Homo sapiens: one gene and its partners. The gene in region 2 interacts genetically with the main gene of each other region. Each region holds a gene or a part of one and is shown on either strand. Other genes may lie near its edges.

The links.
Region 1: changes in SEC24A (region 2) and ARL5B together harm fitness more than expected from each alone (negative genetic interaction), as found in Homo sapiens cells (one large-scale study listed by BioGRID).
Region 3: changes in SEC24A (region 2) and TRAPPC11 together harm fitness less than expected from each alone (positive genetic interaction), as found in Homo sapiens cells (one large-scale study listed by BioGRID).
Region 4: changes in SEC24A (region 2) and ARL5A together harm fitness more than expected from each alone (negative genetic interaction), as found in Homo sapiens cells (one large-scale study listed by BioGRID).

The regions. Positions count from the first base shown.
Region 1 is NC_000010.11:18,672,648-18,677,251, forward strand, and holds part of ARL5B (ADP-ribosylation factor-like protein 5B), read left to right. Parts: coding exon 1-58; intron 59-1,336; coding exon 1,337-1,488; intron 1,489-2,520; coding exon 2,521-2,569; 3' UTR 2,570-4,604.
Region 2 is NC_000005.10:134,657,272-134,662,284, reverse strand, and holds part of SEC24A (protein transport protein Sec24A), read right to left. Parts: intron 1,167-5,013; coding exon 699-1,166; intron 556-698; exon of another isoform or gene 496-555; intron 1-495. UniProt on the Homo sapiens protein: Component of the coat protein complex II (COPII) which promotes the formation of transport vesicles from the endoplasmic reticulum (ER).
Region 3 is NC_000004.12:183,693,510-183,698,113, reverse strand, and holds part of TRAPPC11 (trafficking protein particle complex subunit 11), read right to left. Parts: intron 4,526-4,604; coding exon 4,377-4,525; intron 4,198-4,376; coding exon 4,076-4,197; intron 3,511-4,075; coding exon 3,391-3,510; intron 612-3,390; coding exon 546-611; intron 436-545; coding exon 279-435; intron 1-278. UniProt on the Homo sapiens protein: Involved in endoplasmic reticulum to Golgi apparatus trafficking at a very early stage.
Region 4 is NC_000002.12:151,824,801-151,830,124, forward strand, and holds the start of ARL5A (ADP-ribosylation factor-like protein 5A), read right to left. Parts: upstream 3,622-5,324; 5' UTR 3,377-3,621; coding exon 3,331-3,376; intron 1-3,330. UniProt on the Homo sapiens protein: Lacks ADP-ribosylation enhancing activity.

The DNA of each region.
Region 1 (4,604 bases), on a different chromosome or scaffold from region 2:
TGACAGGGAACGACTAGCTATTACAAAAGAAGAATTATACAGAATGTTGGCTCATGAGGTAAATTTTTAAAGTAAATCTTTAAAAAACAGTGTAGTAAAGTATCTGTACGTTGCCTTTGCTTTTTTGCAAAGATTAATGTGATATGATGTTGGCTATTTTATGATTAACACAACTTTATGTACTAAACTGATGAAAGTCTTGAGGTAAAAAAAAATGTTCATTACTTTTTCAAACTTAAAAAACCCTAACACATTAATTTGTAGATTACTACTGTTATTGTAAAAATTTTTCAAAGCTAAAGTTACTTAAGCATGCCTTTAAAAGTCTGATAAATTGAGATAAGCAAAAGGAAAACTTAAGGGTCTTTTCCCCAAAAGTTTCAATAACTGAAAGGTTTTTTTTTTGTTTTTTGTTTTTGTTTTTGTTTTTTTTGAGACGGAGTCTTGCTCTGTTGCCCAGGCTGGAGTACCGTGGCGCGATCTTGGCTCACTGCAACCTCCGCCTCCTGGGTTCAAGCAGTTCTCTGCCTCAGCCTCCCGAGTAGCTGGGATTACAGGAACCCGCCACCACGCCTGGTTAATTTTTGTATTTTTAGTAGAGACAGGATTTCACCATCTTCGCCAGCCTGGCCTTGAATTCCTGATGTCGTTATCCGCCTGCCTCAGCCTCCCAAAGTGCTGGGATTACAGGTGTGAGCCACTGTGCCTGGCCTGTATTCCATGTTTTTCAAACTTATACTATATAATATATATCTTTCTGAATCTTGCTCTTTTTGTACAACATTGTGACTTATCCATGATAATATATTCTGATTATCCATCTTAATATGTACTGCTTTCGTTCATTCCTTTTAACAACTGTATAGTTTTCCACAGTATGAGTATATCACAATCTATTCTTCTAATGTTTTCATAGTATAAACAATGCTGAAATGAATATTAACCAATGACCTTATGTTATACAAAGACTAGTAAGTAATAAGTATTGCCCAGCTCCCACCACCAGTACTCTTAAGTTTTGGATAAACTCTAGTATTTGGCAACATACTACCATATTTGCCTATTAGAATATTAATTATGTATTTTTGAGTCAGTATTTAAAATTCAGGTGTATTTTTTTTTTTCAGTTTGACCAGTTCGACTCAAAAATAAAAAATAATTATTTAATATTAATCTGTTGGAATGAATAATGAAATTACGGGTATTTGAGATTATTTTTATGTTAAATACTAGTGCCCGATTATGTTAAAGTAGAAGCACTTCATTATAACTGTTCAGCTGGGTAAATTTAAATTGTGGTATTTCACATATTAGAAATATTTTGTCTTGATTGCAGGATTTACGGAAGGCTGCAGTCCTTATCTTTGCAAATAAACAGGATATGAAAGGGTGTATGACAGCAGCTGAAATCTCGAAATACCTCACCCTTAGTTCAATTAAGGATCATCCATGGCACATTCAATCCTGCTGTGCTCTCACAGGAGAAGGGTAAGTTCATCCGTCTGAGGGGAGGTATGACTTCTTTCAAATTTCTTCCAACTTTTTAGGCCAACTTGTTTTCTTCATGGGTCCTGTTCCTTTTCTGTTTGTTTGTTCTTAATTAAAGGTGACTTTTATAATGTGTCTCAGGCTTACAACCTAGAAATAATTCTAGTAAAATCACTGGCAACTTAAAAACTTTTAATGTAAATATAATGTTTTACCAAAAAGCAATAAACTATTGAATTGAGTTTTCATAATCCAAATTTTTTTCTTTGTTGCCTTTATCATATACTGAGAAAAAAACTGTAATGTCACCTTTCTTTTAAAAAGGAAGCTTGAAAGAAATTTCACATTTTCTGCAAGGACTTAAACCTGAGCTCTCAGCTTTCTGCAAGAGTATGTCTTCTTTATTATTAGGAGGTCTTTTGGGAGGCATATTTCCAGACAATAAACAGTTGAGACAAATGCCACATGGTCTATTCTTCCATCTCTAACAATTTGAATGTGGGTATTAGGCCAAGAAGAACCGAATGTTATTTAAGTATTATCCTGTTTATATCAGAGAACTTATCCTCAAATCAACCTCACCTTCTTAGTTTTTCTCTTAGTATTTATCAGAAATAGCTTGCAGTAATAGCTGTGTGTAGGCCTTTTTGACTCATACTTTTAAGACTGAGTCTAAGTATTCCATTCTTTAGAATTGAGGAGGATAAGGTGAAGTTGCTATTGACTTTCTCCAGTCGTTAAGTTTCAGTTAATTTTAAAAGGCGGGGAGTATTTGCACTCTTCATGGCAAAACTGGCAAAGTTGTATCTTCAAGATGAGACTGAAGCAATTTCCCACAAACTGATTAAGAATATTTAAGAGAACATTCCATTTAAAAATTTCACTTATTATAGTGTGACTTGAATGTTGACACTGATGTATATAAATAATGATTGTGCTACCAGCCTTTGGTTAAGACCTAAAAATAATAAGTACGCTTTCAGTTTTTAAGTATAAGGTTTTTAATTAAAAATACTTCTATCTTTTGTTTAGGTTATGCCAAGGTCTAGAGTGGATGACCTCCCGGATTGGTGTGAGATAACTTTTTTGCTTGAAAGAGACTGCTCTATTTATTCTGTGACATGAACATTTTTTCCTAGTACCTTTGGCTGCTAAGGCAGCAGCATGTTTAATTTATAACAACACAAACCTCTGAGAGCAACACTTGAATCAAGTGCAGCTGAACTGGAACATAAAAGATTTTTTCTTAACTTTTTTTTTTTAACACACTAATCTTCAGTTGGATGAATGTAATGTATAACTATGTTTTCAGCAACAATTCTTCTGTTTATTCTAATTAATCAGTGACTGCCTTGTAAGAAATGTTTGTCATATGCGTGATGTCTTCTGAAATATTCTTATAACCTTAATGACCAATTGCTTTCAATTCTTGACCAGCACTCCCTCCCAACCAGAGAATTACTGGTTTGATAGAGTAGTCTTGGAAACCATCAGGTACTGCCTGCAGACTTCTCCAGCACTAAATATATTTGTTCCCTCTATAAACCATTCATCTTTCGGACAGAACTTACTGTAAAGAAAGAAATCTGCCTAGAGGATATATGTAAGGAAGATTCCACATCATGAGTACTTGCCTTTTAACTTTCCCCCACATTACTGTTGAGTCATGGAATAATGTTTAAGTTGTTATTTGCATGGAAATTAAGTAGGCTGTTTATTTATCTAAAGGAATCAAGTCCACTCTTCTGCCTGCAACATTTGTTCAAAAACTAACCAAGGTAAAATATTTATTTGAAAGCCCAACTTTGATGTTAAATATTCTTGAATAAATCTGTTATTTTAAGAATATCACATTATTCAATGCATATAAAACTATCAGAAGTTAGTAAATCATACCAGCACTAAAAATAAGACAATTGGAATATATTTTAGCATCAGTTTACAAACAACTTTATTATCAACAGAAATTTTAGCTCTTTTCTTTGCAAGATATATCACAGCTGCTTTGGGCAGTAGCTGAAGCCGAAGTATGAACAGTCCATTTTGTTTCTTAAAATTTGAAGTCGTGTCTGTCATAGCATTTTTACTACCAGCAGTATGTTACTTAAAAAACTACATGGCTTTCCTTGAATTTATTTGACGGTATTATGTAATAGACTTGAAACAATTGCCATCTTTGTAGTTATGCCTTGGGTTCTAAAATGTTATAGGAAACTGCTGAATTGAATCCTAGCTTTTAGAATATTAATAGGAGACTCAAAGTTAATATTCTTAACAACTTAAAATTAAAAAAAGTCATAATCTATCAAAAGTTTATTTATTGGATGGCATTAAAACATTTTTGAGGCAGTTGTCTAATATGAACAATAATCTAAACAATATATTCCTTAAATTAAGAGGAAAGACAAGTGTCGTATTTCGATCCTGTTTATTCAAATGTGTGATTTTGCTGAAATGAAAGGGATAAAATGAATACTTAGAGAATAATACTTCATTTTTGCAGTACTTTTTAATTTTGATAAAAAAGATACAAAGTTCATAATATCAAAATATGTGTTCAAAATTGGTATTTTAATTTTAATATTTTTGTAAGTTGATTTAAATTTTGCTCTTTTTTCAGGTGTGCTTGGTTTATTATATTTAGTCAAGTTAATTTAGTCGAATGTGGTAACATTTTTCTGATTTATCTTTAGTTGGAGCACACCCTTGAACTGAACAGTGGCCAAAGGAAAGCTTTCTGGGCTTTGGAAAGTAGTTGTTTAACTTTGTTTTAAGCCGTTTTCTTAGTGATTCTGTATCAAGTAGAGGATAAGTGTAGTTTAACTTAGTTTTTAATATAACCCATAATCAAGAACATGAGCGAAAAGCAGACATAAATCGATATGGATGGTTTGTGGTGTGTGTGGGATGTGGGGGAATTAAGAAAATGCCATTTACCTAAGCACAGTTTGCCTGAATTTCTGCTTGGTTGTGTTGTTTACCGTAAGTACTGAGGGTAGTTTCCCTAAGTCTGTCCTGAGAAAAAGCATACTTAGTACTCCTGTATTTGTTCTTATGAAATGACTATCTGCCTTCTTGTATCTAGTAAGATTGGCTGGCTCAATTTTCTTCTGTCA
Region 2 (5,013 bases):
TACTCGGGAGGCTGAGGCAGGAGAATGGCGTGAACCCGGGAGGCAGAGCTTGCAGTGAGCCAAGATCACGCCACTGCACTCCAGCCTGGGCGACAGAGAGAGACTCCGTCTCAAAAAAATAAATAAATAATAAATAAATAAAATAAATAAATGTGGCCAGGTGTGGTGGCTCACGCCTGTAATCCTCGCACTTTGGGAGGCTGAGGTGGGCGGATTACCTGAGGTCGGGAGTTCAAGACCAGCCTGGCCAATATGGTGAAACCCCATCTCTACTAAAAATACAAAAAGTTAGCTGGGTGCAGTGGCACGTGCCTGTAATCCCATAATCCCAGCTACTCTGGAGGCTGAGGCAGGAAAATTGCTTGAACCAGGGAGGCAGAGGTTGCAGTGAGCTGAGATTGTGCCACTGCTTTCCAGCCTGGGTGACAGAGCAAGACCCCATCTCAAAAAAAAAAAAAAAAAAGAGAAAAAAGAATGAAAAAAAAAACTACTAATGAGTGTTATAGCTTACTTAATTTGTCTAGCAGGCTTTCTGGTTTTTGCTGGAAAGCCGAAAAACAAAAAACAACAAAAAACTACTAATAATTTTAAAAGTCACATTTTCCATATGGTTTTCAGGTTTCAAGTATTATTTCAAACATCTAAATAAGCAAAAGTTTCACATTTCTACATTTTAAGCACTTCTATAAGAATACTACCTGACTTTATGAAGCTATTTTGAAGTGAAGGATATCCAGAAGAAACATATTGATGATTTGTGGTTAAACTTGTATTTCCAGATACAGTTGGTTGGGATGATGCACGAGGACAATGGTTTGTTTGTGAGGCTGTGGATGGATAGTTATATTGCCAATTCAAAGGTGGTGGCAGGTTGGCTTCAGGAAGAAAGCTACTAGAAGGCATTGGTGTAGTAGCTGGGTTCTGAGAAGCAGGTAATGGCATTCGGGGAGCAGGACCACTATGAAGCGAAGGTGTCACTGGATTAGAGGCCACAGGTGGTCTATTAAGAGTCTGCCCAGATCCCTGAGAACCACCATAGTTAGACTGTCCAGAGACTGGATTCAAAGTCTTTGCTGGTATTGGATGAGGGTAGGATCCTGGAAGCTGGAAATTGTATCCTTGGCTCACTGACTCTTGTGAAGACAGCAATGCATTTTGGACAGGACCTTCCAATAAAAGGAGGAAAAATTAGTCTTACCAACGAATATAGCAATACTTTAAGAAATAAAGTAAAACATATATTCTTACAGTCAGCAATAAAAACACATAACTCAATTAAAAAATAAGCAAAGGACTTAAATAGACATTCAAACATACTTCCAAAGAAGATAGCTAATAAGCACATGCCAAAACATTCAACATCATCAGTCATTAGAGAAATACAAACATAATTAGTCATAACAGAAATGTAAATCAAAACCACAATGAAGGCCAGCGCAGTGGCTCACATCTGTAATCCCAGCACTTTGGGAGGCCAAGGCAGGTGGATAGCTTGAGCCCAGGAGTTCAAGACCAGCCTGGGCAACATGGTGAAACCCCATGCCTATAAAAAAAAACAAAAAGTAGCCAGCCTTGATGGTATGCGCCTGTAGTCTTAGCTACTTGGGGGGCTGAGGCAGGAGGATTACTTGAACCCAGGAGGTCAAGGCTGCAGTGAGCCAAGGTCACACCATTGCACTCCAGCCTGGGTGACAAAAAAAAAAAAAAAAGATGGACTAAACAGTAGCAAGTAACAGAGGGAATACAGAGATGTCTCAATAAATGAAAACATTTGTAAAAAAATAATATATAAGCATATGTTGGGTCACTTGGATAAAAATAGGCCATCTCACAGCCCAATGTTGCCACAAGATGTCCTGGCCTAGTTTCATATTTGTATTACAATTTTATTTACTTACTTATGGATTGATTGATTGATTGAGACAGCACTTTACTCTGTCATCCAAGCTGGAGTACAGTGGCACAATCATGGCTCACTGTAGCTCTGACCTCCTGGGCTCAAGCGATCCTCCCATCTAAGCCTCCTGAGAAGCTGGGACTACAGGCATGCACCACCACGCCGGCCTAATTTTTTTTTTTTTTTTTTGTAGAGACAGAGACTCACTATGTTGCCCAGGCTGGTCTCAAATTCCTGAGCTCAAGTAATCCTCCTGCCTCAGCCTCTATAAGCGCTAGGATTACAGGCGTGAGCAAACAGGTTGTATTTACAATCTTATCACAAGCTAATACGCTAAAGAGGTGCCTTCAAGCCAGGTACAGCCAAGTGAAAGCCAAATACCATCAAAATGTACAAAATAAGCAAAAATTTGACAGGCCAATAAAGATGAAAACATGCTGGGCATGGTGCCTCACACATATAATCCCAACACTTTGGGAGGCCAAGGCGGGCAGATAGCTTGAGCTCAGGAGTTCGAGACCAGCCTGGACATAATAGTAAGACCTCGTCTCTATAAAAAATATAAGAATTAGTTGGGTGTGGTGGCGCCTGCCTGTAAGTCCCAGCTACTTGGGGCTGAGGCAGGAGGATCACTGAGCACAGGAGGTTAAGGCTGCAGGGAGCTGCGTTCACGCCACTGCACTCCAGCCTCTGTGACAAAGTGAGACCCTGTATCCTGTCTCAAAAAAAAAAAAAAAAAAAAGAATATGAGGTCATAAGGCCAACTGGCAGGAAGACAGATACAAAAGAACTTGTTTTGTGGTAGTCACCATCATAGACCTATTGTGAGTAACTATTACATGAAAATTTTTTTTTCTGACATCCCTCCCCACTATGTGAAAATCATATATGGATCAATTACAAGTAGTTCACAAAAAGTGTAGTAATAAATATATAATGACACCTTCACTAAATGGATAATTTTTTTAAATTCTGAAGTCATTACTAAGTAGCCCATCAAAATAATGGGTCTGTGAGGCCAGGCGCGGTGGCTCACGCCTATAATCCCAGCACTTTGGGAGGCCAAGGCGGGCGGATCACGAGGTCAGGAGATCAAGACCATCCTGGCTAACATGGTGAAACCCCATCTCTACTAAAAATACAAAAAAATTAGTGGAGCGTGGTGGCGGGTGCCTGTAGTCCCAGCTACTCGGGAGGCTGAGGCAGGAGAATGGCGTGAACCCAGGAGGCAGAGCTTGCAGTGAGCCAACATCGCGCCACTGCACTCCAGCCTGGGTGACAGAGCAAGATTCCATCTCAATAAATAAATAAATAAATAAATAAATAAATAAATAAATAAAAATAAATGGGTCAGTGATTGTGAAGGGGTCCAGAATACGCTACTATGGCATAAAAATTATTTTAAGCAGAAGGCATTTGAGTTCCTAAAATCTCTTATCTGCCTAAAACAGAGCCTTCCAAAAGAACTCAATTGTCATAATCTACTTCCCAGGGGCAACCAGGAAAGATGTCAATCTGACTCATGACCTGAGATGAGAAATTTCCACACCACACCTAAACAGATATCATCACAAAACTATCATATCTATTCTAAAAGCCCATTTATCCTTCCTATAAGTCGTCTGTTTTCCAGTAAATGTCCTCTCCCCCACCCCATTCTTCCCCTATTAAAATCGTGTAGAGGTTGGGCATGGTGGCTCATGCCTGTAATCCCATCACACTGGGAGGCCAAAGCAGAACTACTTGAGCTCAGGAGTAGGAGACCAGCCTGGGCAACACAGCGAGACTCCATTTCCACACAAAAAAATTAAAAATTAAAAAATTAGCCAGGAGTTGTGGCACATGCCTGTAGATCTAGCTTCTCAGGAGGCTGAGGCAAGAGGACTGCTTGAGCCCAGGAGTTTGACTTCAGTGAGCTATAATTAGGCATTCCACCCTGGGCTACAGAGTGAGAACGTGTCTCAAAAACAAAAAGGAAAAAGTGAGCATGATAGTCACCCAAGTAATGTTCCAACATATTCAAAATTAAAACAATCAAATCAACTGTGGTTTCAAACAAAATGTAGCATATTGTTTAATGTTTTAAAATTGAATTATATTGCTTTTGATTTTTTTTTGAGACAGAGTCTCGCTCTGTTGCCCAAGCTAAAGTGCAGTGGTGCGATCTCGGCTCACTGCAACCTCCGCCTCCTGGGTTCAGGCGATTCTCCTGCCTCATTCAGCCTCTCGAGTAGCTAGGATTACAGGTGTGCACCACCACGCTGGCTAATTTTGTATTTTTAGTAGAGACGGGATTTCACCATGTTGGCCAGGCTGTTCTTGAACTTCTGACCTCAAGTGATCTGGCCACCTCAGCCTCCCAAAGTGCTGGGATTACAGGCGTGAGCCACCATGCCCAGCCATATGTTGATATTTTTAATGTTTGGTTTTACAATAGTACAATAGCTATAACCCTATGAAGTTTACATCTAGTTTTGTGTTTGCATATACACATTTAATAAAAATAATTTTTGCCAGGCATGTTGGCTTGATCTTGTAATCCGAGCACTTTGAAAAGCCAAGGTGGGAGCACGGCTTGACCTCAGGAGTTCAAGAATAACCTGGGTAATATAGTGAGACCTCGTCTCTACAAAAAAATAAATAATTAGCCAGTTGTGGTGGCACGTGCCTATATTCCCAGCTACTTGGGAGGCTGAGGCGGGAGGATCACTTGAACCCAAGAGATCAAGCCTGCAGTGGGCTGTGATCATGCCCCTGCACTCTAGCCTGGGCAACAGAGTGAGAACCTGTGTCAGAAGTAAAATAAATAAATAAATAATTTAACATTGGGACAGCAGAGAAATATTTAGTATCTATACATTACTCAAATTTTTAAAAACTGATTTGAGGAAACAGCATTCATGGGATTTTATGTGGAATTGAATATGGGTGATGAAGAGAGGAAAAAATCTAGGATGACTCCTAGGTTTCTGACCTGAGCAACCTGGTGGATGGCCGTGTTTATTCATTTGAACAGAAAGAGAAAAGAATAGAAATGTAGGCCAGGCACGGTGGCTCATGCCTGCAATCCCAGCACTTTAGAAAGTCAAGGTGGGAGGATCACTTGAGGCCAGGAG
Region 3 (4,604 bases), on a different chromosome or scaffold from region 2:
AAAAAAAAATTCTTTTTGTGAAGTACATTTTCAAAGTATAACTCCCTTAGAGTAGGAAAAAAGTCTAACCTTTTAAAATCAGGTATACTCAAGCAAATGGTATTATAAATGACACTAATTCCACCTTAATTCCATATGCATTTGCTTTCACGAGTGCAGGTCTCAAGTTCCCTCACTTAGCAAAAAGCTAATTAACTCTTCCATTGCCAGCTTATACACACACACACACACGCGCGCACAATTCTCCTGGTCTTTAAGTGGGAATGAACCAGACTCACCATTGTCCACTTGAGACTCGAGCTGGTCCACTGTGGTCATGGATGGAGCAAGCTGGAGCTCACTGGAAACAATAGTGAGGGCCCAGGGTGAGGCACTTAAGAGGTCCGTCATCAACAGAAAGGGGATGTCAGCATAAACCCTTTCCAGGTGCTCAAACTGTCACAAATGAAGATAAAAGGTCTGTCAGGAATTACCTTAATCCATTTTATCATTTCAGTCCATTTTTATAACCTAAATGATTTCTAGTATGCCTCAAAGAAACATACCTTGGTAGAAACAAATTTAACCGCAACATCAAATGGAAAGACTGTTTCAATTGTTACAGTTTCATCCTGCAAGAAAATGTAAAGGGCACATTCATGGATTTTCTAAATCTTTTTATATAAAGTTTTAAAAAACACAACCTATCACTGATCAATAAATAATCCCAAATTATACATACTAAGAAGTAAAGGCCTTTTAGATAACATTTGTAAAAATCTGTGTCGAGAGAACTGAGTACTAATTTTTTTTTTTTCCTTTGGGAGACAGGGTCTCACTCTGGCAACCAGGATGGAGGACAGTGGCACCATCACAGATCACTGCAGCCTCGAACACCTGGGCTCAAGTGATCCTCCTGAGCAGCTGGGACTACAGGAGCACACTACCACGCCCGGCTACCGTATTTTATGGTTTTAGAGATGGGGTCTTGCTATGTTGCTCAGGCTAGTCTTGAACTCCTAGCCTCAAGTGATCCTCTTGCCTCAGAACCCCAAAGTGCTGGTACTACAGGAGTGAACCACAGCACCTGGCTAAAGTGTTTTCTTATACATTATTTATCTCTGGATCTAATGAAGTGGGCAGGGCAGGCATCATCACCATTTTGCAGAGGAGGAATCAGACGTTCCACAAAGCTAGGGTCTTCCTTTTGTCTAAGTTCCTACTACACCTCAACTCAAAATGACTAATAAGAAAGATAATAATAATGTAATGTGACAGACACTGCTATCATCCGTATACATGTATTATGTAATGTTCATAATCACACAAGGAAACAAGTGCTATTATGATTGCCACTTTAAGATGAGGTCATGGAGCCTACACTCTTAACCAACATGCTACATCTCCTTTCTAAAAGAGTCTGTTAGAAAAACAATGGGGGGGTGGGCATGGTGGCTCACACCTGTAATCCCAGCTTTGGGAGGCTGAGGTGGACAAATTGCTTGAGCTCAGGAGTTCAAGACCAGCCTGAGCAACATGGCACAACCCTGTCTCTACCAAAAATATAAAAAATCTGCTGAGTATGGTGGTGCACACCTGTAGTCCCAGTTACTCGGGAGGCTGAGATGGGTGGATTGCTTGAACCCAGGAGTCGGAGGCTGCAGTGAACCAAGATCGTGCCACTACACTCCAAGCTGGGCAACACAGTGAGACCCCATGTCAAAATAAAAAAATAAAAGAAAGAAGAAAAAAAACCATGGGGTTATTTCATCTTTCAAAACAAATAACACAACCTCTTGGTAAGAAACCTTTAAAAAAGATCATACTGGTTAAAAGCTCAGGCTGTAATGCCAGACAGAGCTGAATTCTAATCCTGGCTCAATACATATTTACTAGCTCTGTGACCTTGAACCTAATGACGTGACCCTGGGAAAGTTATACAGGTTATCTGAAATGCTTGGGGCCAGAAGTGTCTCAGATTTTTTGGATTTTGGAGTATTTGGATTATACTTACTTGTTGAGCATTCCAAGTCCAAAATGCTCCTGGGAGCATTTCCTTTGAGTGTCATGCTGGCACTCAAAAAGTTTCCAAAAGATTTTGGAACGTTTTGGATTTTGAATTTTCAGATTTGGGATGCTCAACTCATGCAGTCTCTTTAAGTCCCAGTTTCATAATCCTCACAGGCTTGTTAGAAAAATCAAATGAGATAATACATATAATGTGCTGAGATTGGCACCCTTATCTCCTAAGCTACCATATAGGACTCTATGTATTATACCAGGCTATGAGAAATTTTCAACAGTACATTACATGCCTTCTTCTCTCCCGCTTGGGAAATACTAATAATTTTGAGATGGTTTTCTTTCCCAATGACTAGTAAATAGCCCACAGCCCAGACTCTGTGCAGTAACAAAACTACAAATCCCCAAATTGCTATAGGCCTTCTCCTCTGCTGGGCTGAGGACCCAATTCCTAAGAGAAAACTAAGACAACATTACTGTCAGGACCAAGAAGATACCAAATATCATAATGTTCTACTAACAAAAGAGAACATAAACATTATATACAGCACAATTGAATCTATTTAGAAACATGGCCTGTTAAAAATCTCTAGAAATAGAAAAGAGACCAATAAGAAACACAAAGAGTTAGCAGTTGCCTTCGAGTTGTGAACTGTAACCGTGATCGTTCCTATTTTCACTTTTATGTGCACTTACCGAAAACAATTTTTACCAATATTTTTTAATAACAGAAAAATGCCTTTCAAAGGGCGACCTCCTTTTCTCCAGAACCCTCTATATGTAAGTCAACTTACAGATTTTATCTCATGTGTGATTTGCTTGAGATCTCAATCCTATTGATCCTCTATACGAAAAGCCATATAGGCCGGGTCCAGTGGATCACGCCTGTAATCCCAGCACTTTGGGAGGCCAAGGTGGGCAGATCACCTGAGGTTGGGAGTTCAAGACCAGCCTGACCAACATGGAGAAACCCCGTATCTACTAAAAATACAAAAAATTAGCTGGGTGTGGTGGTGCATGCCTGTAATCCCAGCTACTCGGGAGGCTGAGGCAGGAGAATCGCTTGAACCCGGGAGGTGGAGGTCGCAGTGAGCCAAGATCGTGCCACTGCACTCCAGCCTGGGCGACAAGGGCAAAACTCCGCCTCAAAAAAAAAAAAAAAAAAAAGAAAAGCCATATAAGCTAATTTTCTGTTTAATGTTTGAGCAGTGAATGCCAGCCTAAACAAATCTCAATATAAGTGATTTTTTAAAAAGTTTAATTAAAATTTATAACAGACTATAAGCACCTAAACTGCTTATTTTATGCTTATTTTATAGGTAAACTAAAATAACACAAAATGGGAATACTCCACATATGATGCTTTATAAAGTAGCTATAAAAAAATACCTTGTGACACTTGCAAACAATTTCTTTTTCTTCAACGGTTGTATTTATCAGGTAAGAAACATATACAAGAAACATTCTGGAACCCACTGTTCCACAGCGAACATACAACATTTTTTCCAGCTGTAACAAAATAAATGTTGTAATTTAATTAGTATTACAGACATTTCTTCTTGATATATATTCTAGGATAATGTTCCCACCTTCTAGAGTTTATTTATACCAACTGGCTAAATTCTTTATCACTTTTACAGAATGTTACAATGTAACTCATCAATGCTCCCACTGTAGTAGAGTACTCTGATTACACTGTGGCCACAGTATAAGGGTGGGATCATTACTACTGCATCTTTTAGAAATTATTGTTCTTTAACTTCCAAAATATTTTTCTATCTAGTTTGGAAGCAGAAGTTGACTGAGAAGTTAACTGCACTAAGTTACAAACAATGGGTATTTTATTAGCCCACTAATTCATGTTAAGCATGTTTTCTAAATTCCCTTGTAGAAAAACTGCTTAAGACATTTTACACATTTACGTATGTAAAATGTGTATGAAATGTTCATTAGTTAAATCACTTTTTCAGTCCTAGAATATGCGTTAAAACGCTCTGAACTGTTAAAAACTCACTATATATTTAAAACTACAAACTAATTGATTTCCTCTTCAATCCCAGTTGACCAAGTTTACCTGTTCCCCTGGATGTAAGTCTCCAACAGGAATGTCAGTGAGTAAAGCCGGGTAGGATTCATCACACAGTTCTGTTCCATGAAGAGTCACGTGAGTCTTCTGAGTTAAATTGGCATCCTGTCCTAAAAGAGTTAATATTGGTTCTTCAAAACAAAGAATTCAAACATTATCCCAATAATCAATACTGTGTGAAGAGCACTATGCCATACCCTCTTGTAAACAAAAGTCCTAGAGTTGACATCACTGATGCTTATTTAATGTTGGATTAATACTGATCAAACTTACAAAAAGGAATGCTTACCTGGTTTTAAGCCAGCGGTGAGCTTCACATCTCTGATTTGGGTCTTTTCATGGGACTGAACAGTCACAACCAAACAATACATTTCATTAGTCAGTGCAGGGGGTTCATGTAGCAGATGTACAGAAATGTTTGGGACTCTGGATATGATCCTTTGAAAAGAAACCTTAGCTAAGTAACTGATCAAAAAAAAAGCAAATAAATTATTCAAATAAAGTATTTAAAAGAAAT
Region 4 (5,324 bases), on a different chromosome or scaffold from region 2:
CCAGGTGTGTGTGCGTAGGAGAAATAACTCCGGCACTACGTAATCGTGGTTAAAATCCAGGTCTATCACTTTTACCTATAGTGCTTAAAGCAAGTTACCTGTTTCCGTACCCCTGTAAAATAAGGGGAATAATATCTACCTTGTAGGGTTGTTGTAAAGAGTAAATCAACTAAGTGAATATTAAATCAAACAACCTGTGTGAACCTTGCACAAGTGTTAACCACTATTATTTTACTTGTAGAGACAAAGTGAGTTAATTTCCTGTCTCCCAACACTACATGAAAGCTCCATAAAGGCAGTGGAATTTGTCTGTTTTGTTCCCTTATCCCACCATGTAGAACACTTCCTGGACTAAATAGGTGTTAAAATATTTGTTTATTGAGAACAAGTAAACCACTGATCACAAGCTCTTCTATAAAAAAAAGTTACTAATGGCAACTTTTCGAAGTTCTAAAGACAACTTAGAGATTAGCAACTGAAAAAGTTAATGGGGGGAGGAGGAGGGAGGGAAAAATGATGTCAATCTCTTCTTTAAGAGATTCCTTCAGGGTTTTAACTTGCCTGGCTCTGGCATATACCAGTTGCATGGCCTGGGGAAAAAAAATCATTCCACTTAAGCCTCAGTTTTCCCTTTTCAGGGGAAATAACTACTTCAAAAGATTGTTAAAACATAAAATAAAATAAAATAAAATGATTTAAATGACAGCATCTAGGATAAAGTTTGTACTCTACTGAATCTCAGTATCAACTAAATGTGACCTCTGGTTTTTCTAGTTCGAGCGGTATACAAATAGCTTTCACTGTGCACTCAATCTGAGCTTTAACTGAAAAAGCTGTTCTCGAGGGGTTTCAGAAACAGGAGATACTGCATAGTTTAAGTTTCATCAGATGGCAAATTCTGTAATCTCCCGAAACATACTTTCCAAGAGTTTCTATGAAAAGAAAGTAAGATTGCATTCTGAATCCACTGAAGGTAAAACAAGAGCATCCAACACATATCTAACTTATATATGTCCTATACAGAAAAAAAAAAAAACAACCCTGCTGGGCACCATGGCTCAGGCCTGTAATCCCAGCACTTTGGGAGCCCAAGGCGGGTGGATCACGAAGTCAAGAGATGGTGACCATTCTGGCCAACGTGGTGAAACCCCATCTCTACAAAAAATACAAAAATTAGCTGGGTGTGGTGGCACGCACCTGTAGTCCAGCCACTCGGGAGGCTGAGGCAGGAGAATCGCTTGAACCCAGGAGGCACAGGTTGCAGTGGGCCAAGATCACACCACTGCACTCCAGCCTGGTGACAGAGCAAGACTCCATCTCAAAAAAACAAAAACAAAAACAAAACCCAACAAATATCTGGCATTAGATTAAATGGTGGATATTCGGAAAAGTGACCCTATTGATAAGACAGCCACACTGTTTAGCAGAAAATAAATAATTTATTCACACTTTCACAATATTCATATCTAATTTTCTAGAACTTAACTTCATTAATTTCTCTATTAATTTCCGCCAAACTGCCATAAATGTCCCGTCAAAAATTACCACAAAATACAGGTTATAAAAACACTACTATTAGCAATTTGTAGTGATACCAGAGCACACACCCTTATTATTTACTACTCCAAGGAGCTGTTGGCAAAGTTCTCATTTATTCTTAACTTACAGAAACAAATAATTTTATCATTGACTCAAAATAGAAAGTGGTGATAACTCTTTTTCTGGCAGCACTAGAGCTCAATTCACAGTCTTGCTAAACCTCACAGCAGATGAAACACTAGCTTTGCTAAAAATAATACAAAATGATGGATGTTAAAACTAGAATAGATCTTATCTACTATAAGTACCATCAGTCTTACAGCAATGTACGTTTTAATATTTGCAATGTAGAAATAAAGTTTACAAGATTTGGAAGCTCCACAGATCCCTGGTGTTCTAGGTGAGAAAACCTAGACCAGAAAACCTGAGAGTTCAAGTGACTGCTTCCCACTCTCCTGCTCCCAACACTAACAGCCAGTCCAGTCAGAGACAGTGCTGATTAGAACTGATTTTCTCTACTTTATGAAAAATCCTCTTATCAGAAAAATTGATACTGCCCTTTCTTTCGGTATCACGTGACCTACACATCTGTGTGTGTGTGTGTGTGCGTAAAAGATACATTAGGGATCACAAGTTCTAGTTCTGCTTGCTTCCCCTAAGCTTCTTAAAAGAGCAGCTAGATCATGAAGGAGGAGGTGGTAGTAGTAGGTGTACATAATAGATGCCACCATTCACGTAAGTCTTTATTGGAAAACTGGGACGTGACACCATCAGCTTACACAACAGAAAAACACAAACTAAGTTCCTGACAGCGGAATGATGAACCACCCAACTTGAGTTAAAAAGAAACAAAAGTACACCACTGTATCTTAATAAGTATCCAGTCTTTGGGTTAAAATTGTATTCTCTTTCCCCAGTTTTAGTCATTTTGTAACAAATTTTAACAAGCCTGATAGGTATTTCATGGCCATGTCTGAAGTTGGCTGAACTTAAGCATCCCTATATAACACACTTTACACTTAGTAACTTGCTAGTTACCTATGGTTAACAAATGTTTCATATGGTATGTTTTTAAAACTTTCAGTGAAACACTTTAACATTTTTAACCCAGCAAAACAAACAAAAACTGTGTCTAATAACCCACACGAGTAGAAAAATGACCTTAAGCTTAACCTTAAACACAGATATAATAAGTAAAACAAATGGAGAGAAGTCCATCTCTATTCAGGAGGCAGAAGAACCCCCCCTGCCCCCAACACACACAAAGACGGGTGGCAGTGGAGGGCAGGCTCATAAACCAGAGGTGTAATGGACAAGTCGAGCGATTCCTCCCGTTTTCCGCATTCTGCAACCCTCGGTCGCTCAGTGGTGCGGTTAGGGCAGCAATCTATAACCTTCATTCCAGAAGACCCCAGCACTTCTATGTGGTGTCCAAACACAACTGGTGAGCAAAGAAAGGGCTGAAAGACAGGCCAGGCCGTGCTACTCAGGGACGTCGGACCTAGGGCAAGAAACCTTTACCACTCTCATTCGAAATCGGAGCAATGGGTCTATTACGGAAAAGACTTCTTAGGAAGGTCTCCTAAGACAAAGGGCTGCGAGTCAGGAACCATCCCCAAGCTCGGGAGCCGGGACCGAACCGTCCCGGGCCCGTATCCGCGCAGCCTGCACCCCGCGCTGAGCTGGCGCCCGACCGAGCCGCCCACATTCCGAAGTATTCGGAGACCCCCACCTAGCCGGCCCGAGCTGACCCTCTCCCCAACCCGTACGCCCGCGGACCGAGCTCCTCACCCTGGTGATTGAACAGTCTCCATATTCTAGTGAAGAGAATTCCCATTCTCGGGCAGCGGACCCCCCCCCTCCAGACACCCGGGCCGCCTGGCTTCCCCCGGCTCAGGCTGAGGGGGAGGAGAGAGACGCGCTGGAGCCTCCGCCTCTGCTGCTGCTCCCGCGCTGGTCGCGGGCCCGCTTCCAGGGAACCGGAGGGAGGCCGAAGCCCAGGCCGCCCTGCCGCGCGCAAGGCCCCGCCGCTGCCGCCGCGGCACTCGCCTGGCTCGCGGACATCGCCGCCGCGTTGTCTGCGACGAGCCTCGCGGGCCACCGTCCTCCCCCAGCTCCTCTCGGGCGGCTGCGGTGGCGACGACCACGCGGGCGGGGGAAGTGAAGGGGCGGGCCTGGAGGGACGTGAGTGCGCAGGCGCGCGGCCAGAGGGGCGGAGCGTAGGAAAGGGCGCCCGCCCTGTCCTCGCTTATTTGCATAACCAAGACTGCGGAAGGCGCAGGACTTTACCCTGGGACTGAGGCTGTGAAGACCGCAAGTTGGGGCAGATGGCTTCCGACTGCTTGCTGTTGCGTCCCCGAGTATTTATATTTCCCTCGAATCTTCTCCACTGCGCCATAATGTAAACATATAATTGAGTACCCCATGTCCATCCCCAACCCTTCACATACACTACACTTAAAGTTCCACGTCATGACTCTTTAAGACATTGTGTCCCCTGTGGGTCTTTGAGGGAAAAGTCTGCTGCCCTCTGACACTCAGCTGAAGTCAGTGGCCTTACCTAGATAGTCACCTTAAAGCCATTTTTGCACTTCAGGGCTCTTTTCTCTCCAATCTCTTAACTCTCACGTCAGTATTGCCCAAAACAACGATTTTGATCAAGTCACTACCCTGTTTAAAAACCTTTAGTGGCCACCAAAGCTCCATCCCTTTCTGTTCTCGTTAACCTTAGTAAAAAGGAAAATAAAGAAAAATTGGGAGACTTGTAGGAGCCATTTGAACTGCTTTGCACTCCCATCCCCAACAGCTGAATGAAATTAAGCAAAATCAGCAATAAACCGCACCTTCCCAACTCACTTCTCCTAACTACCCAGTATTTTACCTCAAAATATAGAAAAGTAATTTCGTTGACTTCTTTTGGGGCTTTATGGTTAAAAAGCCAAAGTTTAGAGGAGCCATACATGAAGGGAAGGAAAATCATAGTAATCCATATTAATTTATGTATTATCATGTCTGGATTTACTTAATATTCTGTACACTGTTTAGAAGAACAATGTAGTTTGTATAACCAATTTGCATTAACTCTGTAATATTTCCATTCTCGCACACCGTAGGTAATGCTTTGGTAGCTCTAAGACTTTTTCAGACTCCCACACAGATGTCAACTTATGAAATGGATGTCATATACACATTATGTGATGGCGGAGCTTCATATTTTACAATCTACCCAAGGAAATGGTCTCCCAGGTTATTTTCCGAGTGAAGAAAGAAGAGAGAGAGAGAGACAGAGACAGAGAGTTTAAAGACCAATTTATCTATGATTACAGAGAAATGCAAAATGTCATTGGAGAGACTTCTGACTTCAGGCATGAGAGAGTAGGATGGTTTGAATATATCCTCCTACCATTAGCAAATAGAAAACTGCACAAAGTACAGGCAACGACATTTCAGATATTGAAAAACACATCACAGTACTGTGATTCTTTGCAAAAGAGAAAGGAACAGGTGGAGTCTTACCATTTCCTGGACTTTATCCCTAAAAGCAATTCCCAGTCAACTACGGAGGAAGTGGGAACCCAAATGAGAATCTGGAAACCTCTTAGAACTGAAGACGCATATCAGCATTCCCAGAGATCAAGGTGACTAGAATTTGTGAAGCAGAGTAACTGGAAGGAGGGAGCTACACAGAGAAAAGCTCTGGAAACCTGTTAAGGGGCCATTGAGTCTTTGGCTGCATATCAATTTGTGCTCGTGCAGTATGAACCCCCAAGAGGCTGGTCAGTCAC